Regions from separate parts of the Homo sapiens genome. Here regions 2, 3 and 4 are each linked to region 1. Evidence: fine-mapped expression QTL. A gene starts in region 1. Each other region holds a variant in brackets. All regions are shown on one strand. Distances are from middle to middle. Region 1 holds the start of IKBIP (IKBKB interacting protein). Region 2 has its middle 19 kb from the start of SNORA53. Region 3 overlaps APAF1 (apoptotic peptidase activating factor 1). Region 4 overlaps APAF1 (apoptotic peptidase activating factor 1).

Region 1 (8,142 bases):
TTTCAAGAACATATATTTCTAAAGATTCTTATTTTTTCCTATAAACTCTATAAACACATAGAACTGGAAAATAAACAAGGGCCTATAAATTGTCTTATTGTCTCTAAAAATTAGGGTAGACATATTATTATCTCAGCAGTACAGTTCACTGGGCAAGAAGAAAAGTTGAGAGTTAATGTGGATGCAAATAAAAAATATTTAAATTGAAAACATCACTACAATTTTTTTAACATGCAGTTTTCAGTGAACTGGTCACACTCTCTTCAAAAGATTACATCTACAATAAGACAAACCCAAAGCAATTTTGATAGCAAAGTGATAGAAGGTATAATGGATACAAACCATACGAAGTTATTCCACTAACTGAATCTTTACCACTGGAAGAAGAGACAACAGGAATGCCATCATGGAGAAGGGCAGCAAGATCTTTATATCCTTCATGTAGTAGAGCATTGTAGAATGATACGTAGGAATCATTATCTTTTTTAAGTATCATTTTAATCAGCATAGCTGCTCTTTGCTGTTGAGTGGGCTAAAAAAAATTAAGTAGTTTAGTATACAACAATGAATATGTATGCAACATAAAGTAGTGGAGACCAGTACAAGTTCTGAAATTCTAAAAATTTTTAAGGAAGTGTGGACTGCTTCAGAGAGCTTTACCTCATTTCTTACTTTTTCCTCTTCTGATATTGTTAAAAATCCATCACTAATCATGTGATCCATGATGTAGGATGTCTTGATGTCCTTTTCCAGAGCTTCTCTATGTTGAAGCAAACAATTTCGAGCTTTTGCATCCATCTTCCCTCAGATCTTTCTCTCTCTGAGCTGTCAACCATGAGCTACAGCCAAAACACCAAAATATTTGTCAGGCCAATAAAAATATGAAAAGATACATAATCTCACTAATAAACAAGAAACGTAAAAAGAACAAAACTGATTTTTTTTCCTTGGCAAAAATTTTTAAATGGACAAAACCCAGTGCTTGGAAAGGTATGAGAAAATGGCCATTCTTATGCACTAATTGGGGAAACTAGAAAATGAATGCAATTTTTCTGGAAAGCAGTAAGATATGGAATTGTTTAAAATAAGCTTTCTCTCTAACCCAGAAATCCCATTTCTAAGGATTTACTTCAAGGAGACATTCAAATACATATGTAAAAATATCCACAAGGAGAATTAATGAGTTTCCAATCAGGTGTGGTAGCTCAAGCCTATAATCCCAGCACATTGGGAGGCTAGAGTAAAAAATAAAAAGAAAAAAGAATTAATGGAGGATGTTTCAGTGATGAACGCAACCTAAATGTCCATCATTCTGAATATAGATTTTAAAAATTAGGGTATGTATATAAAATGGAATATTATGCAGCCATTCAAAATTATGACACATATCTCCATGTATTGACATGGAAAGATGTTCATAATACTGTTGCTGAAAAAAAAAAAAAAAAAAAACAGAAACATGATCCCACATACAACACATAACGTGGGGGCCGGGCGCAGTGGCTCATGCCTGTAATCCCAGCACTTTGGGAGGCCGAGGCGGGTGGATCACGAGGTCAGGAATTCAAGACCAGCCTGGCCAAGATGGTGAAACCCTGTCTCTACTAAAAATACAAAATTAGCCAGATGCAGTGGCAGGTGCCTGTAATCCCAGCTGCTCGGGAGGCTGAAGCAAGAGAACTGCTTGAACCAGGGCGGCAGAGGTTGCAGTGAGCCGAGACCACTCTACTGTACTCCAGCCTGGGCGACAGACTGAGACTCTGTCTCAAAAAAAAAAACAAGTGTTGGTATCATATGAATATATATAGACGTTTAGAAGTTTATTCATCGAAATGTTTGAGTTACTTCTGAGTAGCAAAATTTGGGATTTCTCCCCCACCTTGTCTTATTTTTTTTTTTTTTTTAGTACAGACGGGGTTTCACCATGTTGACCAGGCTGGTCTTGAATTCCTGACCTCAGGTGATCCACCCGCCACAGCCTCCGAAAGTGCTGGGATTACACTTGTGAGCCCCACCATGCCCGGCCTCTACTGTCAATTTTTTTTAGCACACATTATCATTTCTTACAATAAAATACTTCCTTTTTTAATTAAGATTGTATAAAATAGTGATTACATTGAAGTCCTAATATTAAGAGACTTCTTGTTTTCCTTATCAAACATAAGAGTGAATAGAGCATTGTTACTATTGAGTATTAGTTCTCGTTCAAGGAGGATGTCAGCTCTAGGTCCTCCTTGCTAAACACATTTCCCACAAAGCAACAGGAAACACTTTCTGATGTGATTTCTCAGACCAGGAGGACATGAGGAAAGAATAACAGCCTTTATAGTAAAATACTTGACGTTTCTAGCAACTTTATTTCAAATATAATGCAAATTTTTCCATGGGCATAAAACCCAGTTCACAATATCTGCAAGTTTTCAAAACATTAACAGAACTTTACACAATGTATAGAGTGAAAGAGTCTAAACGGGTTTATCAATTCATTCATTCAATACACATTTGTGCCCCTCCCTATATGTCAGACACCAAGACTACAGAAAAGATTGAGTCATTTGCCTGAAATAATTCACAGTCTACTCAAAGAAGAAAAAGAGAGAGAGAGTGGGAATGTGAATGCCCGAAGTGCAAAAACAGAGCACAAGTAACTTGGAGCTCACAGAAGGGGGCAATAATTATCAAGCTTCAATGACTGTTTTTGAAGTCACCAAATGTAGCACTTGGAAAAACAGGGACGGACGTAGGGCATTTGCCTATGCTTGTCAAGGCTTACAAAATGCCCAGCAGGGGCACAAAACTGATAAAAAGTTATTGATTCGAATCAAAACTCTCATTTTTTAAAATGTTAATAACGTTTTTGTCCTCTTAAACATAAAATGTTCCTTAATTTATAGTAATGAAATTCGATGTGAAAAAACAAGAATGAATGAATTTTTTAGGTGATGTCCAATAGCTAAGCAAATAAGACACTCTGGTTTTCTGAAACTAATTTCCAATTTCACCTAGTCCTGTTAAACTAAAATATGCAAATCTTAAATACGTTTTAAAACTGCACAACTTATCTGAACTAAGTCTCAAAACCTTTTGTAACCCACAACAAAATGGAAAGCCAAAACTCTTCATGGACGTAAAACAGAAAACAGCGCACGTTTATCCACGAAAACCCCAAGTTTACTACTTCCTCATTACAGAATTTCTCTTCCTGGTACAGGAGCAGGATGGTTATCAAATATTCCATGTCCTCAAATTCTCAGTCCCTGAAATCAGCTACCAAGCCTCCAAAGAACCTGGCTCGGGGAGAAAAGCGAGGAGGTCAACTTACCCAAGCCTTTGCGCCTAGGTCTTAGTGGGGAGGGCGGCACTGCCGGGACAAGACTGGGAGACTCCAGGCCGGTGGAGGGAAACGGCAACAGGAGTTTTCCACCGGGAATTAGGGGTGCAGGGCTCTGTCTCGCCACATACCCTTCGCCCCGGGGCAGGTCCGGGCCTCACAGGCGCCTCCCCTGGATCTCTGCAGCCCCGGGGCGCACGAAGACCCCCAGGGACCTCCGAAGGTTGGCGAGGTGGGCGTCCACCCAACGCAGCCTGACCCCACAGTCCCGGAGCGCCGCGGTGAGGCCCGGCCCACGGGCCGCCCTCCGGTGGACCCCACTACTGGACACAAAGGGAGGAGGTCTTCCCGGCCTGTGGCGCCCTTCCCCCGACGGCGGCTGCACCCCGGAGGGAGCCCGGCGCTACTCCGGATGCCGCTGCGGCACCTCAAGTCTTCGCGGGTCGCCGACTGCCCAGACTCCCCACCTCTGGTTCTATCCCTTTTGCCCGGGATAGAGCAGTCACGTCCACTCGCTACCTCTTCTTCTCCGCCTCTGGACAGCGGAGCAGTCAAATCCCGCCGGATCCACCCAGCCCGGACGGCGCGCGCCCGCTTATGCAAATAAACACACCCCAAGCCCCAAGGGGCGGCCACCGCTGCCGCCGCGCACTCCTGCCACGGCTCATGCCCGCGCGCGTAGAAGTGCCCGCCTACCCCGCGGACGGGGCGTGGCTAAGCCTCAGGGACGCGCCGCGTTCCCACCAATGCCGGACTCGGGCAGCGGCGGCGCGCCCGACGTGGCGCGCGCGACCCCTTCGTCCTGCCCCTCCTCCTCGGGTCCCGTCGGCCTGCGCGCGCCCGGGAGTTTGAATTTCCTCGGATTTGGAGCAATATCGCAGTGGAAGGCGCTGTGGGTTGAGGTCGCCGCCCACCTCTCCTAGGGGAACTATGGAGCTGGCAGCTGAAAGACTCAGTGAAGCAACGAGGATGCCGGGGAGAGGGAAGGGGCTGGGCTCTGGGCGGTGCCAAGTCTGTGAGGGGGCGCGGTCACCGCCCAGGGTTCCCACGAACGCCAAGGCGGCCACGTCCTGCTCCCCCTGGTGAAGAAGCTGCCCTGGGCTTGTCGTCCTAGGGTCTCCAGACATGTCTGAGGTGAAGAGCCGGAAGAAGTCGGGGCCCAAGGGAGCCCCTGCTGCGGAGCCCGGGAAGCGGAGCGAGGGCGGGAAGACCCCCGTGGCCCGGAGCAGCGGAGGCGGGGGCTGGGCAGACCCCCGAACGTGCCTGAGCCTGCTGTCGCTGGGGACGTGCCTGGGCCTGGCCTGGTAAGTGGACGCGAGGCTGCCTGGGCCGGCCTCCTGTGGGCCCCCTGCTGTTTGGGCTCCCACCCGGCTCAACATCCAGCCGGAGGTGATCCAACCTCCCAGACCTGGGCCTTCTGTGCCTCTGTCTTGACCCCAAAGGAAGGAAACAGCCCAGCCTTGTTTTTCCCTTTCGGGCGTTTCTTGTATCTCATTTCCCCCCGTGCTGGTAGCATGCCCCTATCGCTCAGAAGGAGTTGAGGCTAAGGTTTGGGAACGAGCCATTTGTTAAGAGCTGCAGATTCGGCCACGCTTTCTGAAGCTCCCGCTACACGTCAGAAGCGTTCACGTTGTTATAAACCGTTACTTCCTGTCCGCTGTGCCCCATTCCGGGACACATCTGCCCCACCCTACTCACCCCATAAATACCTAATGGAAATACTTGCAACCTTAAAACAGATCATTATGTTTGGAGACCGAGGCAGGTGGATCACTTGAGGTCAGGAGTTCGAGACTAGCCTGGCCAACATGGTGAAACCCCATCTCTACCAAAAATACGAATAATCAGCCGGGCGTGGTGGCGGGCGCCTGTAGTCCCAGTTCCTCCGGAGGCTGAGGCAGGAGAATCGCTTGAACCCGGGAGGCGGAGGTTGCTATGAGCCAAGATCGCATCACTGCACTCCAGCCTGGGCGACCGAGCGAGACTCCGTCTCAAAAAAAAAAAAAAAAGAAAACCATATCATTATGCTCCCAAAGGAGCAAACGTTATAGTAGCAGAGCTTGGAGGAGTGCTCATATTTTGATCACCGTGCATGCATTATGAATTTAAGGTCTTTTATTAAGTAAGTTACAGATTGAATATGGTAAAGCTACAAAAACATAGCACTTGTGTTCACTTAAAACTAACCAGTTGCAGTTTTAAAATCAGGTAAATGGCGATATATTGGTGTCATTAGGAAAAATGAATATTAGAAATAACCTTAAAACCAACTCGTAAAAAAAGAAAAAAGAAAAAAACCAACTTGTGAATTTTATTTTCCCAGCCTTTTTTTTTCTGGCGGGAGGAGGGAATAGCCCATTTCATTTTAATAAGATTGGCATCTTAATAGAATTTTTCTCCATTTTTCATTCATGTGTAAAGTTATTTAGTAAGACTGTTGTTAATCTTCCAGAGTGATAGAATTTTAGAAGAGACCCTGGACATCTAGACATTTTTTATGCTACTACATATGGAATTATACTTTACTGGTGACTCATCCCAAATAGTGTATTTTTCAGAGTTAAAAGATTTGTTACGGCTGGGCGCGGTGGCTCACACCTGTAATCCCAGCACTTTGGGAGGCCGAGGTGGGCAGATCATGAGGTCAGGAGTTCAAGACCAGGCTGGCCAACATGGTGAAACCCTGTCTCTACAAAAAATACAAAAATTAGCCAGGCTTGGTGGCACAAACCTGCAATCCCAGCTATTCAGGAGGCTGAGGCAGGAGAATCACTCGAAATGGGGAGGTGGAGGTTGCAGTGAGCTGGGATCGTGCCATTGCACTCCAGCCTGGGCAACAGAGCGAGACTCCATCTCAAAAAACAAACAAACAAAATTTTGTCACAATAAAGTGATTAAACGCCCTCTTCAAAAACAATAGAATTGTCAGCCTGCCGGCAGTGGCTCATGCCTGTACTCCCAGCACTTTGGGAGGCCAAGGTGGGTGGATCACCTGAGGTCAGGAGTTTGAGACCAGCCTGGCCAACATAGCAAAACCCTGTGTCTACTAAAAATACAAAAAAGCCAGGCATGGTGGCATGCTCCTGTAATCCCAGCTACTCAGGAGGCTGAGGCAGGAAAATCACTTGAACCCAAGAGGCGGAGGTTGCAGTGAGCCGAAATCGTGCCACTGCACTCCAGCCTGCAGGATGGAGCAAAACTCCTTCTCAAAAAAAAAAAAAAAAAAAGCAGATAGCATTATTTATTTTACTAATACGGAATATGTTAATTTTGATCTGAAAGGAATAAATGTACTGAATTTACTGTTTTAAATAAACGGCTCTTATGCCTTAAAATGCTTGACCTCCTTTAAGTAAATTGAAAAAAAAACCTTTTTGGGCCAGGTGCAGTGGCTTGCGCCTGTAATCCTAGCACTTTGGGAGGCCGAGGCAGGCGAATCACTTGAGGTCAGGAATTTGAGACCAGCCTGTCCAACATGGTGAAACCCTATCTCTACCAAAAACACAAAAATTAGCTGGGCCTGGTGTAATCCCAGCTACTCAGAGGTTGAGGCAGGAGAATCACTTGAACCTGGGAGGTGGAGGTTGCAGTGAGCCAAGATCTGCTACTGCACTCCAGCCTGGATAACAGAGCGAGACTTCGCCTAAATAAATAAGTAACCTTTTGTGTTTTGGGAAAGTTAGTTACTATCCTGGGATAAGCTTTAATAGAAAACTAAACTTTATGGGAATAAAATTTCCCTCACATCAGGAATTTGCTGTTAGTGATTCCTGTATTACATTGTAATGAATGTATTACATTCATTAGGAAGATTTAATTTGAACTATGTTTGCAAAATGATAACACAATGCTATATCAAAAATAATTTTGGGGGCCAGACCCAGTGGTTCATGCCTATAATCCCAACACTTTGGGAAACTGAGGCGAGAGAATTGCTTGAGGTCAGGAGTTTGAAACCAGCCTGGGAAACATAGTGAGACCGTGTCTACGAAAAATTTTTAAATATTAGCCAAGTGTGGTGGCATTCGCTGTAGTCCCAGGTACTTGGGAGGCTGAGGTGAGAAGATAGCTTGAGTCTGGGAAGTCAAAGCTGCAGTAACCCATGATTATACCACTGTGCTCCAGCCTGAGAGACAGAGCAAGACCCTGTCTCTCTAAAATGTATGTATTATATGTGTTTTTTATGGGCAGATTCTATAATTATTATTTAAATAGTTGCCTCTTAGTTGCTCTTGTGAAATCTTTTGCTGCAAAAATTGAAGCAAATGTACTTTGGTTGCTGTTTATTGCAAAATATTTATTCATAGTAAATTTTGAAATAAAAATATATCCCCATAAGACATTTGTAAACATTTTCCAGATAAAAAGCAAGTATTTGGCATCTTAAAATACTTAAAAGCTCACTAGAATTTTGACAAAGCCATTGAGATCTTTACCACTAAAACACGTAATTCAGCATCTAAAAGTCGGTCTATCAAATCTTTATTAAATGCTTTCCGTACTGACACGGCCCTGGTGGTTAAAATACAAGTGCATATGTGTGCCTGTCTGTGTACTCTTAAATACTGCTTACTCTCACTCTTCATCTGATTAAGTTGGAGGGAAAAAATCTGAACCCTTCCACTGCCCAAGAAGGATTTCAAGGAATCACACTATATCATTGTCTTCAGACCATTTCCTATGTGGAAAGAAAAGAGAAATAATACATAAGAAACTTAAAAGTGTGTTGCTTTAATATCTTCTCTCTGCTAAATAAAGGCCTGATAGGCCAGGTGTGGTGGCTCCCACCTGTAATCCCAGCACTTTGGGAG
Region 2 (8,000 bases), 27 kb after region 1:
ACATACCCACACGTATGTCAAGCATTTCTAGGAGATGTACATTCATCATAATCATTCCTTTTTTTTTTTTTTTTTAAGATGGAGTCTCACTCTGTCCCCAGGCTGGAGTGCAGTGGTGCGATCTCAGCTCACTGCAACCTCCACCTCCCGGGTTCAAGCGGTTCTCCTGCCTCAGCCTCCCGAGTAGCTGAGACTACAGGCATGCGCCACCATGCCCAGCTAATTTTTGTATTTTTAGTAGAGATGAGGTTTCTCCATGTTGGCCAGGATGGTCTCGATCTCTTGACCTCGTGATCCGTCTACCTCAGCCTCCCAAAGTGCTGGGATTACAGACATGAGCCACCGCGTCCAGCCTTCATTATCGTCATCATAACAGCTCTATATATTGATTACCTACCTTGTGCCAGTCATTATCACTAATCCTTACTACACCTTTACTAGCTATTAGACCCATTTTACAAATAAGGAAATGGAGACTTAGGAACATTGGGAATCTTGCAGTCACACTGTAGACCTAGGTCTGTTCAATTCCAGAGGCCAAGGACATCTCACTACACCATGGAGCCTGCTACTGTTCAACTAGGGGAGAAAAATCACAACAAATCTGCTGTTAGTAGAACTATCTCGATAACTCAAAAAGCAATAATTGAGTCAAATGTGTTCTCTACCATGTTGCCATTAAACCAGACTCAGTCCCTCAAAAGCTGTAGCTGTGCTCTAAAATTGTTTGGCCCTTGAGCATGAGAAGGAATCAATAAATGAATAAATGTTGGAGAAGAGGAAAAAGCAGTGCTGAAGAGTCCTAGGCTGTACTCCTCTAATCTATTAATAGGTTTTGCCACTGCATATTCTGGGCACTTTATTTTAGGGCTTAGGTTTTTTTTGTTTTGTTTTGTTTTTTGAGACAAAGTCTTGCTGTGTCGCCCAGGCTGGAGTGCAGTGGCACAATCTTGGTTCACTACAACCTCCGTCTCCTGGGTTTAAGCAATTCTCCTGCCTCAGCCTCCCAAGTACCTGGGATTACAGGTGCCTGTCACTACACCCGGCTCATTTTTTGTATTTTTAGTAGAGATGGGGTTTCACCAGGTTGGCTAGGCTGGTCTCGAACTCCTGACCTCAGGTGATCCACCCACCTCGGCCTCCCAAAGTGCTGGGATTACAGGTGTGAGCCACCACGCACGGCCACTAGGGCTTAGTTTTAAATAGTAAAAGGAGAGAATTATATCAATAATCCCTAAGATGCCTTCTGGCTTTAAGTGGTTTTATTTACTTATTTACCCTTTTTTTAATATAAAAAAAAGTAGAGGTGAGGGTCTCTCTATGTTGCCCAGGCTGGTCTCAAACTCCTGACCTCAACGGATCCTCCGTCCTTGGCCTCCCAAAGTGCTGGGATAACAGGTGTGAGCCACTGCGCCTGATCTAAATGGTTTTAAATTATACAGATCAATAAAATTTCCAGGTCCTTTAATAGAATTCAAAGAACCTAGCTGGGTGCAGTGGCCCACGCCTGTAATTTCAGCGCTTTGGGAGGCTGAGGTGGGTGGATCACGAGGTCAGGAGATCGAGACCATCCTGGCCAACATGGTGAAACCTGTGTCTCTACTAAAAATACAAAATTAGGTGAGCGTGGTGGTGAGCGTCTGTAATCCCAGCTACTTGGGAGGCTGAGGCAGGAGAATCTCTTGAAACCAGGAGGCAGGGGTTGCAGTGAGCTGAGATGGCGCCACTACACTCCAGCCTGGGCGACAGAGCAAGACTCCGTCTCAAAAAAAAAAAATCCTTTAGCAAGTTTTTAGAAAGCAGATTGGACCTAGAAATCATATTCTTGAACCATGTTGCTGTGCTTGTAGATCCAGGCAATGTTTAACATTACAGGACAGCATCTAACCTCATACCTTGAATATATGATAGGAATTTAATAAATATTCTGGCCGGGGGCAGTGGCTCATGCCTGTAATCCCAGCACTTTGGGAGTCTGAGGTGGGCGGATTACTTGAGGTCAGGAGTTCGCAACATGGTGAAACCCCGTCTCTACTAAAAAAAAAAAAAAAAAAAATAGAAAACTTAGCCAGGTGTGGTGGTGCATGCCTGTAATCCCAGCTACTTGGGAGGCTGAGGCCGGAGAATCACTTGAACTCAGGCGGCAGAGGTTGCAGTGAGCAGAGATTGCACCACTGCACTCCAGCCTGGGCAATAGAGTGAGACTCCATCTCATAAATAAATAAATAAATAAATAATCAAATCACTGATGTACTTTTTTTTTTTTTTTTTTTTTTCTGAGAAAGGGTCTGGTTCTGTCGCCCAGACTGGAGTGCAGTGGCATGATCTCAGCTCACTGCAACCTCTGCCTCCCAGGATCAAGCCATCCTCCCAGCTCAGCCCGGCTATTTTTGTAATTTTTGTAGAGATGGAGTTTCACCATGTTGCCCAGGCTGGTCTTGAACTCCTGAGCTCAAGTGACCCATCCACCCCGCCTCACAAAGTGCTGGGATTACGGGCGTGAGCCACCATCCCCAGCCTTCACTGATGTGCTGTTTTCAGCTACTGATAGACTCTAACTCTTCTATCCATCCTAGGCAAATAGGTTAACCAAACCCGAAGTAATTTTTAAAATAACTTAATACAACAATCTGTAGACTATTACCACACTGTATTGAGCTTATATTTTCATAAAGATCAATAGAAGTTCATGATACATTGCTATTATAAACAACCAAGTGAAACAAAGAGGTTTACTAACAGCTTCTTCCTAATAATCTGATCCTTCTAAGAATAAGCTAAGCTCATTCATCAACATCTTAATTGTTTAATTGCTATTAAGCTACTTTTACCAGAGTAGATACATTAATAAATGATAACCTGGTAATGAAATAGATTAAAGTAGCCGTCTAGTCCTTTCTCCCTTGGGAGATTGTTTCATCAAATACACTATGTTGCAAAACTTCCTCCTTAAAAATAAAATGTGATTTTGCAATCACTTCTTGGTTTCCTTCCTATTTGTGGCTACCGCTTAATGTCATACCCACAGGAACATTTCGCAAACTCACTTCTCTACCAAAAAACACATTTTGGGCCACCTTATCCACCAATAATTAATTTAAGCATAAAGCAATTGAGGAGAAAAATCCTCAAGTGTATTTTGAAATTAAACATTTATGATGGGGCGAAGTGGGGGGGTTGCTACTTAGAATTATTTTGTCCTACTGTCCCATTTCTGTACTTCATTATAATTATTTTGCAACTATATGGATGCTTCTTTTTAAAGCTGCCCTCAAAATAATATTCTGAGCATAATTCATTTTTATTTGTGTTAAGTAAAACTAAATGTATGATAACCAAAATAATCTCAAAAGGTTGGCATTAGCCAAGTAATCCAAATACAATTTAAGAAAGATAATTCAAGCTAGGTGTGGTGGCTCACGCCTGTAATCCCAGCACTTTGGGAGGATCACTTGAGCCAGGAGTTCAAGACCAGCCTGGGCAGCATAGTGAGACCCCCATCTCAAATTTTTTTTTTTTTTTTTGAGACAGAGTCTGGCTCTGTCGCCCAGGCTGGAGTGCAGTGGCACAATCTCGGCTCACTGCAAGCTCCGCCTCCCGGGTTCACGCCATTCTCCTACTTCAGCCTCCTGAGTAGCTGGGACTACAGGCGCCCACCACTACGCCCGGCTAATTTTTTGTATTTTTAGTAGAGACAGGGTTTCACTGCATTAGCCAGGATGGTCTCGATCTCTTGACCTTGTGATCCGCCCACCTCGGCCTCCCAAAGTGCTGGGATTACAGGCGTGAGCCACCGCGCCTGGCCTCAATTTTTTCTTTTAAGAAAGATAATTGATAAGAAAACATTGAAGAAATACACAATTATTTTAGAAAAAAAGATATCTTTAGATTAAACTGCATATTTAATTTTGTAAAAATGTTTTACAGTCTATTTGTTTTTATAAATTTTAATTTCAATTTTTTTGTTTTAGAGATGGGGGTCTTGCTATGTGCCCAGGCTGGAGCACAGTTGGTATTCATAGGCACAATCATAGCACACTACAGCGTCAAACTCCTGGACTCAAGCTTTTTTATTTCTTCTTTTCTGAATTTTAAGTAACACATTTATCGACATTCTGTGTCCCAAACTAAACTACAAACTCCCTAAAAGCAGAGACTGTTCTTGATCATACTAGGACATACTGTAGTACAGTATATGCTGTCAAATCAAACTAGTTTTGGTTATTAATAGAAAGTTATAATTTCCTACTTTACAACATAGTACTTTCCTAGAAAACAAGCTGAAAGTTAAATATGCAAAAGTCAAATGATTGACTTACACATTATAAATGGGATTCTTTTTCCAGAGTAATTACTGTATATCTGTCTTTGGGCATACGCATTAGCAATGTATTTCTAGCCATTTTACATTTGTTTCTTAATTTATTTTTCTTCATAATTGAGCACACAGTCCATAGGCTAATCTTCTGATTGAAGCTAAATAGTCTTACCTGATTTCCATCTTTGTTTTAATTGTACGACTTTATCCAACTTTGTGTGGTTTATGAGATCTACCCATCTTATCGCTATGTAATTTTCCCTTCTTCATTTTATTAACTGATGGCACAATGCAATAAAATGTCAAATATTTAAAGTTCGATAAAATACTCAACTCC[C/T]CAACACTGCTATATAGGCACGCACATGTGTGTGCACAGACACAGGACCATCACCACAAACAACAACAAAAATAACAACTCAAGATGTTGCCAGACACTTGGGTGGCTCCAAATGTTTATCAGTTAATGTGTCCAAGTTAAATCAAGGTGACAATTTAAGAGCTTTCAGTTCATAATGTATAGTGGGGAAGAAGGATGACATTGAAACATACAAAAGTTGAAAAACAGCTGCATTTGGAATCAGAATTTTAGAACCTTGGAAATTCTTTTCTTTTACTTATCTGTCTTCTCTACTAAACTAAGTTGAGGCCACAACTCGAGTTATACTCATCTTTATGTTCCACATATTTTGCATGCCTAACAACATACTAGGAACTTGAGAATTTGAATTATTCAAGGTCTCATGGATAGTTAGATAGGCCAGAAAACTGTTCATAAAAGTTACAGGCCAATAAAGCGTAGACATATAGTCTTGGACATTGGTCCCTTCATTCTAGCATTTGCTATAACTTATTTGCAGTTGCCTTAGACCCCGAATAGCCAAAGCAATCTTGAGCAAAAAGAACAAAGCTGGAGACATCACACTACCCGATCTCAAAATATATTACAAAGCTGTAGTAATCCAAACAGCGTGATACTAGCATTTAAAAAAAAAACATAGACTAATGGAACAGAGAGCCCAGAAATACTTCTACAAGTGTATGTTCAAATGATTCTCATCCAAGTTGCCAAGAACACACAAAAGGGAAAGGACATCTCTTTAATAAATGCTGTTGAGAAAACTGGATATCCTATGCAGAAGAATGAAACTGGACCCTTATATCAAACCATATACAAAAACCAATTCAAAATGAATTAAAGACTTAAATGTAACACCAGAAATTGAAAACCGCTGGAAGAAAACATGAGGAAAAAGCTTCTTGACGTTAGTCTTGGGAAAGATTTTTTTGAATAGAACCTGAAAAGAACAAGCAACAAAAGCAAAAATAGATAAATATGATTGTGTCAAACTAAAATCTTCTGTACAGAAAAGGAAACAGTCAACAGAGTGAAGAGACAACCTATAGAATGGGAGAAAATACTCATGAACCATAAATCTGAGAATGGCTTAATATCCAAAATATATAAGGAACTCAACTCAATAGCAAAAAAAAACCCAATTAAACAATGGGCTATGGACATGAATAGACATTTCTCAAAAGAAGACATAGTAATGGCCAACAGGTATATGGAAAAAAATGCTCAACATCACTAATTATCAGGGAAATGAAAAATTAAAACCACAATGAGATATCAACTCACACCTGTTAGAATATTTATTATCAAAAAGACAAAAGATAACAAGTGTTGGTGAGAATGTGGAGAAAAGGGAACCATCGTACACTGTGAGTGGGAAAGTATAGCCATTATGGAAAACAGTGTGGAGGTTCCTCAAAAAAAAAAAAACTAAGAATAATCATATGATCCAGCAATCCCACTTCTGGATATATATCCAAAAGAAATGAATCAGTATGTCAAGGAGTTTTCTGCACTCCCATATTCATTGCAGCATTACTCCCAATAGCCAAGATATGTAGAATCAACCTAAGTGTCAATCAACAGATGAATGATAAATAACACACACGCACACACACAAAATGCGGTTCTCCCTTTAAAAAGAAGGAAATCCTGTTATTTGTGACTACATGGATGAACCTAAACGATATTATGCTAAGTGGAATGAACCAGGCACAGAAAGACAAATACTGCATGATCTCAATTATATGTGGAATCTAGAAAAGTCAGACTCATAGAAGTACAGAGTAGAATGGTTACGAGGGATTGGAGGGGACAGGGTAGGACAATTGAGAGATGTTGATTAAAGAATACAAAGTTTCAGTTAAACAGGATGAATAAGTTCTGGAGATCTATTGTATAGTATGATGACTGTAAATAATAATAATATATACTTGAAAATTGCTAAGAGGCCGGGCGCGATGGCTCATGCCTTATAATCTTAGCACTTTGGGAGGTCGAGGCGGGCGAATCACTTGAGATTAGGAGTTTCAGACCAGCCTAGTCAACATGGTGAAACCCTGTCACTACTAAACAACAATCAGCCAGGCGTGGTGGCACACAACTGTGGTACCATCTACTCTGGAGACTGAGGCAGGAGAATCACTTGAACCCAGGAGGTAGAGGTTGCAGTCAGCAGAGATGGGGCTATTGCATTCCAGCCTGGGTACAGAGTGAGTGAGACTTCCATCTCCAAAAAAAAGAGAGAATTTCTAGGAGAGTAGATCTTAAATATTCTTACTACAAAAAAAAATACATGAGGTGATAGATATGTTCATTAGCTTGATTTAATCATTCACAATATGTGCGTAGATATGTATATCAAAATATTACATTGTACACAATAAATATATACAATTTTAATTTGTCAATTATACCTTAATAAAGCTGAAATAAAAAAGAACTTATGTTGCCTTGTCTCACCTAGCAAAGCTCAACTGGAGGAAACTTCCTTTTCCCTTCTCCAGCAACTGAAAAACCACATCACTGTCTCATGTAGCTCATTTTATTACTGTACAGAAGACCAATTGTGAAAATATTATAATGTAAAAAATGTAATTTCCAGGGACATTTCATGAAATTTTCTTAATGTTTCCTTCTTATTCATTAGTAATTCACTTACATTGTTCTAAATTCTCTTACTTCTGAAGTCGTCTTTTACCATATGCTTTCCAGAAGAACAGTAAAGTGTAGTTAAAAAATAACATAAGGCAGGGCGTGGTGGCTCACGCCTGTAATCCCAGGCATGGATTTAGGAGGCCGAGGTGGGCAGATAACCAGAGGTCAGGAGATCGAGACCAGCCTGTCCAACATGGTGAAGACCCGTCTCTACTAAAAATACAAAAAAAGTTAGCTGAGGTGGGGGCGGGTGCCTGTAATCCCAGCTACTTGGGAGGCTGAGTCAGGAAAATCGCTGGAACCCAGGAGGTGGAGGTTTCAGTGAGCCAAGATCGTGCCACTGCACTCCATCCTGGGTAACAGAACAAGCCTCTGTCTCAAAAAAAAAATTAAAATTAAAAAGAAATATAAAATTTAAGATGAATTTTAAATGGTAAGCTTCTAATACATTTAATCATTGTGATATTATATTTTCTTATAGTGGCAGAAATCTGAAGCTATCATGGAACAATTGAAGTCTTTTCAAATAATTGCTCATCTAAAGCGTCTACAGGAAGAAATTAATGAGGTAAAAACTTGGTCCAATAGGATAACTGAAAAACAGGATATACTGAACAACAGTCTGACGACGCTTTCTCAAGACATTACAAAAGTAGACCAAAGTACAACTTC
Region 3 (8,142 bases), 72 kb before region 1:
GTTTCTGACTAGGCAATGATGATGAGTGATTTGTTGTTGTTGTTGTTGTTGCACGGAAACACACTGTGCTAATTGAATAACCTTAATATCACTAAACTTCCACCACCATTAGTCAAATGCAAAAGTTGAGTTTGGGGATGTCTCTATCATTGACTATTTTTGCAATGTATATATACTTGTAGAATTTTTTTCAGCTATATGAATAAAATTTAAATTGTAGAAATGTTAAGGAAATTTTTTTTTTCTTTTTTTTTGAGACAGAGTCTTGCTCTGTCGCCCAGGCTGGAGTGTAGTGGCGGGATCTCAGCTCACTGCAAGCTTCGCCTCCCAGATTCATGCCATTCTCCTGCCTCAGCCTCCTGAGTAGCTGGGACTACAGGTGCCTGTCACCACGCCTGGCTAATTTTTTTGTATTTTTTAGTAGAGATGGGGTTTCACCGTGTTAGCCAGGATGGTCTCGATCTCCTGACCTCGTGATCCGCCCGCCTCGGCCTCCCAAAGTGCCGGGATTACAGGCGTGAGCCACCGCACCCGGCTGGAAACTTTTCATACCAGCAAGAACTAACATAGTCCTATATACTGGCTCATGTAAGCATGGGTAATACTTGGCCTTTATTTACTTCAAGGTAAAGGATCAAAAACTACCAAAGTAGACCTCAATGTTCACAATCCTAAGGGCTATAATCAGGTGAGCTGATTCTTCAAAGTTTGGCAATAACTTCAGCTCAGCAAAGATTTACAGAACCCTTACTGGATTCCAGGCTTTGGGGATACAAAGATAATTAAAACAAACCTCCACTTAATCATTTACAAAAACCTTAAAAAATGAAAACAAAACCCAACCAGTCATTTCTCGAAAATATCTATAGAGTTTTGTTACATTTAAAACACTGTAAATGTAAAAAGTATTCTGAGTAGAACAGAAAAAGAGGAAGAAACACAACTACTTAACTCATATTTCTAAATATAATCTAACTCCTTTTCTAAAAATATCTCTAGAAATTATTCTTCCCCCTAGCTGAGAATACCTGAAATCGTCAAGCTGGTCATAAAAACCTTATGAATTTAACTTTTGATAGAATACATAGTATACAATGTCTCAAAAGAACTTCATCAGATGTAGTTTTTAGTTTTACCCATTCCAAAGACATCTGGAGAGGAAGAAAGGTGACTATTACACTGAGTTTTACAGCTAGAACACCAGTGTCATGGGAGCCTATAACAAGTAAGTTTCTGTACTAAAGCCAAATTTCATTGCAATCATACTGCTTCCTAGGACTCACACAGACATAACATTAAAAGATCTTTTTCCCAAAAGGGTTTTTAACAATACAATTAAATATTGCCACCACAATTAATATATATACTAAATAAAAGAATATAATAATTTCCACTGAACATATGCATTCTATCCTTCACTTCTAAAGCCCTACTAAAATGGCAAGATCAAAAGAATGAGAAAGGAGATAACAGCAACAAAATGTGGGAGGCTGGAAAGCAAGAGAATGGTAACTGACTCAGCAAAGTCAAGAAAACAGAATCCTAAAGGCATTATAAAAAGTCAAAAGTGGCCAGGCGTGGTGGCTTACGCTTGTAATCCCAGCACTTTGGGAGGCTGAGGCGGGAGGATCACAAGGTCAAGAGATCGAGACCATCCTGGCCAACATGGTGAAACCCCAACTCTACTAAAAAAAAAAAAAAAAATTAGCCGGAAATGGTGGCACGGGCCTGTAGTCCCAGCTACTCAGGAGGCTGAGGCAGGGGAATTGCTTGAACCCAGGAGGCGGAGGCTGCAGTGAGCCAAGATCATGCCACTGCACTCCAGCCTGGCAACAGAGCAAGACTGTCTCAAAAAAAAGAAAAGAAAAGAAAAAGTCTAAAGCAACAAAATCGGCATTATGAACTCCCAAAATGCTCAAAAATGGAAGGCACTAAGTATACCCAAAGGAGGAAATGAGGGTGGGGCTAAGAATATAAGTATTAAGAATTAGGAGGCAGAGAATCCTAAGATAGCCACACAGTGTTCACCGAAAAGTGCAATGGAACAACTAGAGAAGAGCAGGAGACACTGAGTGTGAGGTACAGTCTGGAAGGACTGGAGCAGTGTGAGCCTTGTGAGCTCTCAAAATTAACCAGAACAACCCTACAGTGAGGAGAAACCACAGGGAATAGAATCCAATGGAGTAGAACGAGGATAAGGGCATCAAAGGAAAGAGAAGGTCGAAATAACTGAGAGGGAAGGAGATGGGGCAAAGAGATCTCCTAAGAACAAGGCCATTATATATTTGAGATGGGGACTTGCTCTGTTGCCCAGGCTGGAGTGCGGTAGCATGATCATAGCTCACTCCAGCCTGGACCTCCTAGGCTCAAGCGATCCTCCAACCTCAGCCTCCTGAGTAGCTGGGATTATAGGCATGCACTACCACACCTGGCTAAATTATTTTGTTTTGCAGAGATGGGGTCTCGCTATGTTGCCCAGGCTGGTCTCTAACTCCTGCCTCAAGCAATCCTCCCACCTCAGACTCCCAAAGTGCTGGGATTAAAGGTGTGAGCCGCTGCGCCCAGTAAGGCCATATTTTTAATGCCTCGTGAAAATAAGAGAACGAGCTGCAGAGCTGTGAAGCTAGAAATGCTGGACTTCCCCACTCCTCCAAGGAGTTTAGGAAACTTGATTTTACATAAAAAAGAAGGCCGGGCACGGTGGCTCACACCTGTAATCCCAGCACTTTGGGAGGCCAAGGTGAGATCACTTGAGATCAGGAGTTCAAGACCAGCCTGGCCAACATCGTGAAACCTTGTCTCTACTAAAAATACAAAAAAATTAGCTGCATGTGATGGCAGGTGCCTGTAATCCCAGCTACTCAGGAGGCTGAAGCAGAAGAATCACTTGAACCTCGGAGGTGGAGGTTTCAGTGAGCCGAGATTGCACCACTGCACTCCGGCCTAGGCAATAGAGCAAGACTGTCTCAAAAAGAAAAAAAAGAAAGAAAAAGAAAAGAAAAGAATTGCTGTTGAATCCCAAAGTTACTATGGGAAAAAAAGGAAGAAAGTAGACAGACAGTGACAGCAAACTAGAAAGAAGAATCTCTGAATTTAAGGGCACCAGCACAACTGAGGGTAGAATTACAATTCTGAGAATGAGGGATCAAGGGAAGGTGTACATACTAAATGTTGAGATCCAACATCTATTAATACTTCCTGTTATCTTCCCCAACTTAGCTCTGAGAACCTGCCAGCCAGGTTTATCCTCCAGGCAAAAGACCAGAAAATTCCTCTCTAGGAATCTGAGGAGACCAAGACAAAAGACCTGAAGATACTCACAACAAAGTTTCCCCTTTCAGATTCACCTTTTAGAGAAGATCTCAGTCAACACACAGAGCTTTCAGCCAGTTGTTCAGTACAGATCTCTGATAGCCAATGACCACTGAGAGCTAAGGAGGCCTTCAAAATAGGAGGTCAAAACAACCAAACAGAAAAAAGCAACTTGGAGGGAACAGCAACTATGCAGCAAAACAAAAATTTATGGGGAAAAAATTATATATATAAGCCAGGCACAGTGGCTCATGCCTGTAATCCCAGCACATTGGGAGGCCAAGGTGGGTGGATCACCTGAGGTCCAGAGTTCAAGACCAGCCTGACCAACATGAAGAAACCCCATCTCTACTAAATATACAAAAATTAGCAGGGTGTGGTTGTGCATGCCTGCAATCCCAGATACTCAGGAGGCTGAGGCAGGAGAATCGCTTGAACCCAGGAGGCGGAGGTTGCAGCAAGCCAAGGTCGCACCATTGCACTCCAGCCTAGGCAACAAGAGTGAAACTCCGTCTCAAAAAAAAACAAAAAAAAATTATATGTGTGTGTGTGTGTATATAATTTCTATATATATATTATATATATTTACCTGTCTGTGTGTATATCTCCTCAGAGAGATAAAATATTCTATCTACAAAATAAGAATTTAACACATTAGAAATATACTAGTAGAAATGAAAAACTCAATAAAATGGCTGGAAGGCAAAACTGAGGAAAACTCCCCAAAAATAGAGCACAGTAGGCCAGGTGCGGGGGCTCATGCCTGTAATCC[C/T]AGCACTTTGGGAGGCCGAGGCGGGCGGATCACAAGGTCAGGAGTTCAAGACCAGCCTGGCCAGCATGGTGGAATCTCATCTCTACTAAAAAAAATACAAAAAATTAGCTTGGCATGGTGGCATACGGCTGTAATCCCAGCTACTCAGGAGGCTGAGCCAGGAGAATTGCCTGAACCCAGGAGGCAGAGGTTACAGTGAGCCAAGATCGCGCCACTGCACTCCAGCCTGGGTGACAGAGTGAGACTCCATCTCAAAAAAAAATAAAGAAAAAAACATAAAGCACACTATAGAAAGATGAAATGTGGAAAAAGAAAACTAGATTATCAGTCCGGGAGATCTAACATCTGAATAATGGGTGTTACAAAAAGAGAAAGCAAACTGGAACAAAAAGGAAAGAATCAAAGAAATAATTCAACTTCCATGAATTAAAAATCATAGGTTTCCAAATTGAAAAGGAAGACTGAATATCCAAAACAATGAATAAAAACTAACAACACAGTGTATCATCAGGAAATTTCAAGATTCTGGGGATAAAATGAAGATCCTAAAATCTTCCAGAGAGAAAGATTAGGCAGCAAAATGGCTTCAGACTTTTCAACGTGAACTTTGGAACTTGGAAGAAAATGGAGCAATGTCTTCAAAGTTTTAGTGTAAAATAATTTCCAACTACACCCAAAGGTCAAATTTTCCTAAATTGCGTTAAGGCAAAAAATGCATTCACAGTACCCTTAGTACACAGTGATCATAGTAACAGGAAGGATCTAAACAAAATTTCGTTATAATTGGGATAAATGGATTGATAAATGAGTGTCTGTGAACGTGTGCATGCACATAAGCTGAAGGCAGGACAGGTGGAAGGCGGAAAAAAGCAACATCTTCCTGTAGGGAATTCGGTAGATAACTTCTCAAATGGGAAAATCAAGAAGAGCACTATAAGCATGCCATATAGAGGCATGAAGGTAATATCAAAAGAATCATCTAAAAGCTAAAAGTGGTGCCTCTGGAGAACGAGAAATGGGGGAAAGGGTCTGTTTTTCATAATAAGTCTTGTAATACTATTTGAATTTTAAAAGAATGTGCATTGGGACTTTAATAATCAAGTAAATTTTAAAAGAATATATAGTAAGTTTAGGCCTCCATATCCACAATTCTTTATTATGTCAAACCATTCTCTTTTCACAGAATTTCATTCCTGTAATAAACATTTTGTTCTTAAAAGGAAAGAATGAAATGATTTCCATTGGATTTTACTACTGTAAAGAAAAATAAAGAGAAATTACATAAATGTGGCAAAAAGTATACTTACTGATACAAATCCAAATACCAAGACAGGCAAGAAAATGCAAACAAACCCTTCATTTTCAAAATAAACAACCTTCCAACAGAGGATTCTAAGATAAACTGTCTGCCTCACCCACAGAAAAATATGAAACACCCATAGGTTTCATCTAAGCCCATGTACATAATCTGAATGTATGCCCAACGTAATGTGTTTAAAATATACACCAGATTTTAGGCATAATCATAGTGTTCCTTTGCTAGAATCAGCATTAAATATGTTAAGAGTTCATCCTCCCTCTCACCTGAATTTCAGCATCATCAGAACTTGAAATAAGAGTCTTCTCATCGGCTGTGAACTGGATGTGCCATACAGTTTTCTTGTGCTGAAACCTGGACTGGAAGATTCTATTGTTTACAAGTTCTAAAATCTTCAAAGCAGAAAAACACAGAAAATTAAGAAGAAACTAAGCAATACATAGGCATTACACCCCAAAGATATTAAACTAAAATTAGACTGGAGGGTACAGAATTTCCATCTGGTGCTTCCAGCCTAATTAAAAACAAATGAATGTCATATATATATATATATATATATATATATATATATATATATATATATGCACACCATGTATGCCTACATGCAAACATATTGGACCCTAAAATAAAACACTCACTGCAATCATCAGACAGCAGTAGGAACCAGTGGTCCTTCTGAGTACTCAACTACCCACTTCATCAAACAAGTGGCTGTCTGGGCTTGCCCTCCAAAAAAAAAAAAAAAGACATTTAAGATGGATAAGAGAGAAGAAAGTAAGTAAGTCCTGGATGAGAAGGCAAATTATTCATAAAACAACACAAACAAGGAAAGATAAAAGATGATGAGGGAGACAGGATATCAGAAGGCTGGTGGGCAGTGCAATGAGAATACTTAAGAGGGCCAAAGACTAATAATACTCTAAATAAAAGTAGTAACAAATTCAAAAGATAATGACTATGTCAAAAAAAAAAAAAGAAAAAAAAAGGCTTTCAAATGAACTCATACCAAAAAAACAAAAAGAGAGGAAATATGTTTCATTGACCAAATTAAAATGTACTCAAGAAAGCCTAAGGAAAATACAGATGATGCTAAAGCAGGAGACACCAGAAACTCAAACCTAACCCACGTCTGGAAGAAAAGCCCCTTGAAAACAAAGGGGAATTGTGTGAATGGAAACCTTCCTAAATGAGCGGGATGAACGATCTCACAAACCCTGAGGCAAGGGCAGGATAGCATAACAGTTGAGCACACAGCCTCAGAGATCTGGGTTTGAATCCTAGCTCTGCCACTTACTGATTTTATGAAAATTGTGGAAATAAGAGTTTAGACATCTTTAAAACAAGAATAACAACATCGAACATCCAGGATGTTATAAGAATTCAATGAGAGCATCTGGCACAGTAAACAGTTAATAAATGGTAGTTGCTATTATTTGATGATATGAGGCTACACCATATGAAACTGCCACTTTATAGGTAAATGCTGGTAATTTCACATGGTTCATTATGTATTATTTATATTATTTGATGACTTTGAGGGAACTAACGATGTGGATGAAGCACATATGTGTGTTGTGAGTTTATTTTTAAACTATCTAAAAGACTTATTTTAAGATAGATGGTAAAAATGAAAAGAATGTGGTACTGACTTGGCATCAAGGTAAAGAGAAAAGGGAAACCAAGGACTCTTTAAGAATAAATAATAATACACAACAGTTTGAGAGATGAGCCTGAGATGGAAGCCTAAGGTTCACCTGTAAACATACAATTATCCCTTGCTTAAGAAATACATATCCATGATGTACTTTATCCCAGAATAGTACACATCTTAACAAATGATAAATAAATTTTTCACAATAATAAAGAGAAAACAAAGCCTGAACTCTCAATCCATGACATAAGGGCCATGACAAATATATAAGAGTATTGAGATCACTGTGTAAATGCTTCCTTCTTCACTTTGTGTCTAAGCATATAGTCTCTTCTCTGTGGGGCCATATGGACTAGAGAATATTTGTGTAATTCCTTATGAAAATGAATCCAAAGTAAAATAACTGTGGCCAGTGCCATAAGTAATTGGTTAAAAAATAATTCCCAGACACCTGGTGAGAAAAAGTGAGAGAAGGAACCAAGGTTTTTGAAAAACCACTATAAAGCTAGAGAAAATGTGCTTTTGGGATGAATTTCACTTGTGATAAAGACAACAATATTTTTACCCAAAATGCCTTTTATTATACTACATTTTTGCCTTGCAAAGTGTTTCTATTTTTACCTATTTGGTCTTGTTAGATAAATTAAGGATTTCAGGTGGTGAACTGAGGTTCTTCTGCCACCAAAAGTAGAACAGCAAGGATTGGTGGAACAGGCAAGCACAGGCAGCCCTGCACCCATATTCCCCATGAGCCTTATCAGTACCGAAATGGAAACAACTTATACCCCACATGGCTGGGCTTCTAAGAAGAGGAGAAAAAAATGCTCTTTGCATAGTTAGCGAAATCTTGATAGATAGTATTTGATATATGTGGAGAACAGCCAAACAACTAAGTAGAGAATAAGGGACATAAAAAGACAAAAAGCATGAGAAACAGTAATAAAGGAAATCTGAAAAATATACAGCCAACTGGATAAGATGATTGTTAGTTTAACGAACAATGACTAATAGATCACAGAAAGATTTATTTAGTATAAAAGTGTACAATAGGCTGGATGTGGTGGCTCATGCCTGTAATCCCAACACTCT
Region 4 (8,142 bases), 92 kb before region 1:
AGGACCATAGGATGGAAGCATTGTCCAGCTGAATAAGGCAGACTTTTAAGAGCTTTCCTGGAAGCTCCACCCCACAACTTCTGCATACAGCTTATTGGCCACCCCTATGTAGGAGGATGGAAAATGTGGCTGCAATTGTTAGTTTTAGCTGAGCACACTGCAGCCCCCAACAATGCAGGGGTTGTTAGTGAGGAAAAGGGGGAGATTGGATATTGCGGTGGTCACTGGCAGTGTCTACTACATTGGGAATCATCACAGTAATAGCTAAAAGGCAAACACAAGCACACACATGTGAGACACTTGAACAGAGAAAGCAGTGCCTGTAAGAGGGATTGGTGATCATCCTGACAGAGCTGCTCTATAAATTAGCCACCAAACCTGAGCAGGAAAGATCCCCACAGCTGGGTTAATATGCACACCAAACATCTGTGCTGTCCAGCAAGCTCCTGAGAATGTTATGGGCAGAGCAGGCACAAAGGGGCATGCTGCATTGGCAGACATCGCAGCATCATGGGCTGTGCTAAAGGAGGAGACTGGCAATGAGTTGGTTGGGCATCAAGGGTGAGAGTAGAGGGCGCTGGCTCTCAACCTCCACTGCACACTGGAATCACCCGGGGACATTTAAAGCCTCCCTAGGAAGTGAATCCTTGAGGAGATTAACCCATTTGCTGAAGTCACACAGCTGGAAAGTCAGTGTAGCCAGGGTTGAACTTAGATCCACTTGACAGCCAAAGCCACACACATACCACCACACTCCCAAGCTACTGGCCCCAGCAACAAGCCCAGGGTCTTTTCTCCCCTCATTCCCAGTCTTCTTTACCACTTGATGGGTGTATGCGTCGCCCAAAGAGAATCAAGTTCGGGATAGTTCAAAAGAAAGCAGGTGACAGCTTTCCTGCTAAGTAAGCAATGTCTGTCTCCTAAAAGCCAATGGCCATAAGGAGAAGGAGGTGGTAGAGGAGGGTGCCTGGAGCTAGGTGTCTGCCATGGAGCAGAAGCAGCAGGGTCGCAATTTGTGAATCATGGAGATTTGGGCAGTACAGGAATGGGGGTTTGTAACTGGGACGAAAGATAAGTATTATGCTGTTTATTGAGATCTATATCAGATTCTTGACATGTTTTTTCTAAGCCCCACAAAAGCCTTGTACATTAGGTTCCCTATTTGACAAATCAGGAAAGTGAGGCTCTGAGGGGCTGCATCTTTTTTCAAATGAAAGGAAAAGGAGAAGGGGGGAGATGCAATCAAGATGGCAGAAGACAGCACACAGATCCACTAACCAAGGCCTGCCACTAATTTGAAATGAATCCCTTAAGAGTTTCAAAGTAGAAACAGGCTTCCCCAAAGGGAAGGCAACAGTAGCTCTGCTACCTTCCTTGCTCAATACCTGAATCATCTGAGAATTGAGAGCAGGTTGGGCAGTGGCCAGGTGCTGGCAAATCCAACGCATTCCCCCCACCTGTCCCATCCATTGGCTTCTATCAGAATGTTCCTGCTGCTTTTTTCAAAGAGCAATCTCTACAGGCACAGATACAAGTTAAGCAGACTACCAAAAGTAGAAGCTCCTTGGGAGCAGACAGCATCTGATGCCTTCTCCGAGAGCTTAGTAGTGATGCATCTGTCCTGATGCAAGTGAGTAACGAATGAAATGCAGAACTGAAGTGATGCTCTTGGACCCTCTAGCCCAGGGGCTTCAATGAGAAGGTACAGGGAGTGTCACCCAGTGGAGACAGAAGGCCGTGGACCAGAAACCCAGCTCCACCACTTGGCTGTGGGGCCCTGGAAACCTAACCTCTCTGCATCTGTTTGCACACCTATGAAAGAGATAACACCTTGCAGCACTGTTATGATTCAGTTAAATAACGTATGGAAAATGCCCAGCCTGTGGGCTTGGCACATAAAAGGCCCTCAAAAAATAGTAGCTCCCTTCCTTCCTTCTAAAAGACTTGGTGTGTCTCCAGAGGTTAATTGACAGCAAGTAGGGCAATAAGCCCAAGATGAAGGGCTTAGTGAAGGGCTCACTGCTAATTGAAGGTGAATATAAGAACATCTCCAAAACCATCACGTAAGCTATTGGATGACTTTCCCCAGCTAGTGAAACCAAGCCTTATGACCCCTAGGCTGATGTCATCTGCCACTGAACCCAGGAGTATTCTACTTCCAGTTGTGACTGACAGGTGACTTACAAGCCTAAGAGTCTTGGCCTTTCTATCTATAAAGAATAGCAGATTTGGATTCTAGCCCTGGCTTTGTCACCGATTAGCTGCTGGGGTTTAGTTCTTCCTCTATCTAAAAACTGAAGCTGCAGTCTGCAGATCCACTCAACTTCTGTGAAGATAAATGAGAGTTGGGCAGTGCCTCGAGTGGAGCGGCGATAAACATTTGAATGAATGCGAACGTGTGCTCCTCAGAACAGCAGGAGTCTCCACTCACCTGCTCAGTTTTCCAGTTTGATCGGTTGCTCTGAACCCCCAGACCCAAACTCAGGCCTCGACCACCCTCTCTAGTTACATATTCTAGCCCTGGGTGATGGAAATTACAGAGGCAGATTTTTCTATTCATTTCTATGTGATAAGGAGCATTCCCAGTTCTGGGGGCCTGACCTCATAAATGAATTTACAAAGAACACCAGTGACTCATTTTCCTGAATCTTAATTGAAATGAAAATTTCCCAAATTCTGGTTTTCTCACATCATTTGACTCAGGAGCAAGTCATTGTTGATGCCAGAGGACTTCAAAGGCCTGGTCTCTGCTACGTCTCAAATGTGACCCCCTTCTTCTGCCCCTCTCGTGTGAGCATATACAGTAATTCTTCTATAGTTAAACTCATAGCCCAAGAGCAGCAGATTTTCTAATTCAGGCATTTTAATAACTGTATAGTATATCCACGGTCCCAAGGGGAGTGGTTATGAGCAAGGAATGTATTCCAGTGACAATCTTCAAAGACTAAGAATTATTAGAAAATCATTTTCTCCTTCGTTAAAGTTCAGTGAGTAAATTATAATATAAAATGTCTGTGGAATAATAGATGGCCATACTTGCTGACTTAAACACTCCAGGGATATGTTTATTCATTTTATATAATTTGGTAGCAAACCTCTTTTGTCCAAGTAAAGTTTTACTTTCCCCTAATGATGTTTCACAGAAAAAGGCCAAACTAAAACGGCAAGATAAAATGCTGGTGATATGCTACATCTTCATTTGACAGCCTCATGATATCCTTATGGAAAGGAAGAACATAGACTGTGTTATGAACACGTGGGCAAATTCATCCCATGGAACTCAGGAGATGAATTCCAGTCATCCAACAAGTGTTTACTGAGGCCCTCATTGCAATGCTAGGCTCATGTTAGACTCTATACAGTCCTGGCTTTCAAGGAGCTTACGATTTACTGGGGACCTCAATAAGCAAGCAATTCCAAAACAACAAAAGCCATGACAGAGAAAAGAGAATGCTAGGAGAGGGCAGGGCAGCCCTTCAGCTCTTGAGGGTCATCTTAAAGAATTTGTGAAACATAGGGAGTTAGCGGGGAAAAGAAAATCGGTGAGAGGACAGCATAGAGAAAACAGTGTACACAAAGCTACAGAAGAGAACTTGGAGCAGGTCCAGGGTTTAAACAGAAGTGTAAACACAAAGTTTAAACAGAGAAGTTTAATGTGATTCAGATGAGTGCTCTGGAAAGATCATGCAGAAGGGCACAACTGGAGGCAGAGATGGCAGCTGGGGCTGTTGCCAGGCAAAGAGGAGGGAGCTCAAATGGCATTGCAGAATGTCCCCTGAGCGGTCTCTTAGTGCAGGCAATGAGATAAGTGCTTCAGGAGCTTTATCTCATTAAATCCTACAACAATCTGGAGGGAGGAACGGATCCTCATTTTTCAGATAAGACAACTGCTGATACTGTCCTGTTTTCTTATCATCTGTTGTCCCCATGATCTCTCAACAACTCAAATGTATTTACTTATTGCTTCCTCTGCTGCTTAAAACAGTGCTTGGCATGCAGATGCTCAAGGAGTACAGGATAGATAGGTGGGTGAATGAGCAGACTGATCAAGGACTACAGACAAGAAGACGTTAAGGGGCCCATGCCTGCTGCATTCACTGTACTTACCACACTAATTTGCAACTCTTAGTCTCTGCTGGTCCTTTTTAGTCTCCTGGGCTTATCCCTCATCCCACTGATCTCCAGACTGCCCTGGACTCAGTCTTGGGGCCCCCTGTCTTTTCTATCTACACCCACTTCACTGCTGATTTCATCTACTCCTCTGATTTTAAATACCATCAATTCACTGATGACTCTCAGATTTCTACCTCC[T/A]GGTGGAGCTTTCCCATGAACTCCAGAGCCTTGCATCCCGCCTACTCAGCATCCCCACCTGGATGTCTCGTTAACGGGCATCTCAAACTTACCGCGTCCGCAAAGCTGCTTTCATTGTCTTCATCTCAGCTGACGGCAACTCTCTTCTTCCAGTTGCTCAGGCTAAAACCTTGCATCATTCTTTTCTTGTCTCTCTCACAACCTTTATCCAATCCATCAGCAAATCCTATTAACTCTTATCTTCAAAATATGTCCAGAATCCAACTTGTCACAAGCTCTGCTGCTGCCACCCTAGTCTGGCCCACCTTCATTTTGTCCGGATGATTACAAAAGCTTCTCACTGGTTCCCCTTTCAGTTGATTCCCACTGCCTGGGTGATTCGTTAAAGCTTAAATCAGACCACTGCTCAAAACTCCTACACTGGCTCCCAGAGTCAAAAGTGAAGTCCTTACTGTGGCCTAAGAGGCAGCCTCCGGTGCTACCCCAATTCCTCTCTGCCTCTCCTGTTAGACTCCTCACACTCACCCTTCTCCAGCCACATGGGCCGTCTGGCTGCTCCCAGAATACACCAACCATCCCACTGGAGTCTGCACCTGCTGTATCCTTCAGAATGGTTTCCCGACAGATGCATAGCTCACTTCCTCACATCTTTCAGGTCTGTACAAGTGTCAGCTTCTGAAAGAGCCAGTCCATCTAAAACCGTAACCCCTTCCCCTCCGCTTGTACATACCACCAAATTCACTATAGATTTTACTTATTTACTTTTTCTGCCTCTCCCTGGCCCTTAACTGCAGTAGAGCAAGACTTTTGTTTTGCTCACTCCTGTGTTCCCAATACCTACCACAATGCCAGGCACATGGTACATCTCAATATTTATTAAACAAATGCATGAACAAACTAAGTGAATAAATAAATGAATTCTCTTTTTTACAGGATCTTCTTCATGCCAGCCATACCGGGCAGGAACCATCAGAGAGACACACTGAGGAGGCACTCAGAAAATTTTGATAGAATTGAATTTACATATAGCTGATAAAGCCTAAATAGAAAGGTTGATGTATTTAGCTTGAATCCTTCACTTTAGTGGTCTAATCAACAGATAAATGACAAGCAAAGAATGAAACAATCCAAAAATGTTTTTCAAAACAATTTTGTGAATTTTATTTTTACAAAAATTTTTTAAATTCATATTTTAAAATGTATACCAAGGCAAAAAAATCATATAAGCTATATCATAAATACAAGAGTTTCAAAACATACAAGAGACATATAATGTAAAAAAAAATTATATATATGAAGTCCAATGTAATTTATAATACAAAAAAATACAGCAAGGGAAAATGCTTTAGAAATGCTCATCTGCAAACTACAAAACAAAATCCTCCTCTTGACCGACTGCATGAACTGCCATGAAATTTGCAGCTCCATCATACTAGGTATCTCTTCTTTCTTCATGTTACCTTGTCTTTCTTCCCATTTTTCTTTTAAGACAGGGTCTTGCTATGTCACCCAGGCTGGACTCAAACTCCAGGGCTCAAGGAATCCTCCTGTCTTAGCCTCCCAAGGAGCTGGGATTACAGGCACGTGCCACCGCACCTGGCTCCTAATTTCTTTTTAAGACAAGGGCCATTCAAGGCTTTTTAAAACCTGATGTGTGTTGTTATACTTTATAACAGTCAGTGGCTTTTAATTCCAAAAGGTAATACTTTATACTCTGCCTACATGAGATGAGCCCCTAACAGTGTGTACAAATAAAATTATGATTTGGGTATTCTAAGGAGACATACCATTTACAGAAATTTCTTTTGATAAAATTAAGGTTTCACTTTTCACATTTGCTTAAATCACAGTAAGCCTGTAAACTAGCTCCTTGACCCACCATTTAAAAACAAAAAACCTCCTTAACAATGCAAAGGATTGTATTCACTGTATTTATGATTCCATCAAAGGCTAAATAGCTTATCTAAAATACATCTGAGTGATCTATTCCCTTACCCTCTCCCCGACCTACCCCACAGTTATACTAATATGCACCAACAATAAAAACAAGTTATCTACTATTAACACTAGTAATCATTTGATTTAGTTCCAGTTACAGAAACAAAAAAAATCTTTGAATTTTGATTATATTTTCTGGGAACCACATCTACTATTAATTTATCTCCATTGCCCTTAATAATATATTTCAGAGAAAATGTTTCTTTAGATTTACGCTTCAACTAAAGTTCCTGATCAGGAGGTCAAAAATAGCTAGTTATTGAGTTTTTTCCCCTGTCAAAAGCTATTTTTCCTGATTAACCTTGGAGATAAAAGAAGAGAAAGGAAAGAAGGAAGGAAAAGAGGATGAGAGAGACAAGGGAAAGGAAAATAGGTTGGCTGGAAGGTTAATCTTCTAGAGTTACAGTGACTCATCTGGAATTACACAGAAAACCAGAGAATTCTCTTGAAATTCATTAAAAGAATGGCATTCACAATGCCATTCATCTAAAAGTAAATGGAATTAGATGAAAATTGTTCTATTTCACATTTCTTAGAAAAATCTTATTAAGGCTTATGATTAAAATTGGCCCCACCTCAATGACTAACATTTAGCAGTGGAGAAACTGCTTTTTAAAAAAGAAAAAAGTGAGGATTAGGAAAGATCAGGTTTCATTCAAGTAAGAAGTCTGATATGTAAGAAACAAGAGGGAGCAGGAATAGTGTCCAACTCAGATACTGACAACTAGAGTCCAGATATGGCACAGGGCTGCCAGCAGCTACAGTGAGAAAAGGGTAGACCAATAAAATCTACTCTTTCCAACATACAAGTTTTACTTCACAAAAAGAACTGCTGAAGGCCAGGCCAGTGGCTCATATCTGCAATCCCAACACTTTGGGAGGCTGAGGCAGGAGGATTACTTGAGGCCAAGAGTTCAAGACCAGCCTAGACAACATAGTGAGACCCTGTCTCTACAAGAAAACTTAAAAATTAGCTGGGTGTGGTGGCTCGTGCCTGTAGTCTCAGCTACTTGGGAGGCTGAGGCAGGAGGATTGCTTGAACCCAGGAGTCTGAGGCTGCAATGAGGTATGATTATGCCACTGCACTCCAGCCTGGGTGATAGTGCAAGACCCTGTCTCCATTAAAAGAGAAGGGGCCTGGCCAGGCACGGTGGCTCACGCCTGTAATCTCAGCACTTTGGGAGGCCAAGGCGGGTAGATCATGAGGTCAAGAGATCGAGACCATCCCGGCCAACATGGTGAAACCCCGTCTCTACTAAAAATACAAAAATTAGCCTGGCATGTGCGCACACCTGTAGTCCCAGCTACTCGGGAGGCTGAGGCAGGAGAATTGCTTGAACCCAGGAGGCAGCGATTGTGGTGAGCCGAGATCGCGCCACTGCACTCCAGCCTGGCAACAAAGCAAGACTCTGTCTCCAAAAACAAAAAAAAAAGGTGGGGGGGCCTGCTAAATCCAAGACTCACTTATTGAGTCAATTAAAGGAAATGCTGCAGACTATGCACACAGACACAATATTTTTAAAGCAAATTTAAAGAGTGCAAAAAACCTCTAAGATTGTATTTAGGAGAACAAAACCCCCTTGGGGTAAGTGTGGTTCAAAAAGCAGGCCACTGCTACCCTGAGGCACAGCCTGCATAACAGTAATAAATACAGACAGTATTAAAATACCAATTTCTTCCAAATTCTTCTCATTAATTATGTCAACCATTTTGAATGCATCAAGACAGAATTTTACCAACAGTACAACAAGGTATGTATTCACATTTTCATTTGCATCCTAAGGACAAACTGTTAATGATGATCATGAAAAACAAGATTAAAGGTATGTTCAT

What was found. PIP is the estimated chance that this variant, and not a neighbour inherited with it, causes the effect.
Region 2: its variant is fine-mapped to the expression of IKBIP in whole blood (INTERVAL, PIP above 0.99).
Region 3: its variant is fine-mapped to the expression of IKBIP in whole blood (TOPMed, PIP above 0.99).
Region 4: its variant is fine-mapped to the expression of IKBIP in blood mononuclear cells (TOPMed, PIP 0.92).

The regions. Positions count from the first base shown.
Region 1 is chr12:98,641,016-98,649,157 of GRCh38, reverse strand. IKBIP (IKBKB interacting protein) reads left to right here and starts at 4,370. Exons shown (of 3, transcript NM_153687.4): 1 at 4,370-4,635. The coding sequence starts at 4,457. APAF1 (apoptotic peptidase activating factor 1) reads right to left here and starts at 3,868. Exons shown (of 27, transcript NM_181861.2): 1 at 3,323-3,868; 2 at 661-839; 3 at 343-532. The coding sequence starts at 798. RefSeq lists silencers at 3,464-3,673, 3,994-4,193 and enhancers at 3,770-4,397, 4,398-5,024, 5,025-5,652.
Region 2 is chr12:98,614,150-98,622,149 of GRCh38, reverse strand. It overlaps a transcript of IKBIP not described here. Among named protein-coding and RNA genes, the nearest start is that of SNORA53, 19 kb to the right of the region's middle. The variant C/T (reference allele first, on the strand shown) is at 4,656.
Region 3 is chr12:98,713,079-98,721,220 of GRCh38, reverse strand. APAF1 (apoptotic peptidase activating factor 1) reads right to left here. Exons shown (of 27, transcript NM_181861.2): 22 at 5,669-5,794. Among named protein-coding and RNA genes, the nearest start is that of APAF1, 72 kb to the right of the region's middle. RefSeq lists a silencer at 3,304-3,504. The variant C/T (reference allele first, on the strand shown) is at 4,085.
Region 4 is chr12:98,732,737-98,740,878 of GRCh38, reverse strand. It overlaps APAF1 (apoptotic peptidase activating factor 1), which reads right to left. Exons shown (of 27, transcript NM_181861.2): 27 at 5,446-8,142. It also overlaps a transcript of ANKS1B not described here. Among named protein-coding and RNA genes, the nearest start is that of APAF1, 92 kb to the right of the region's middle. The variant T/A (reference allele first, on the strand shown) is at 4,312.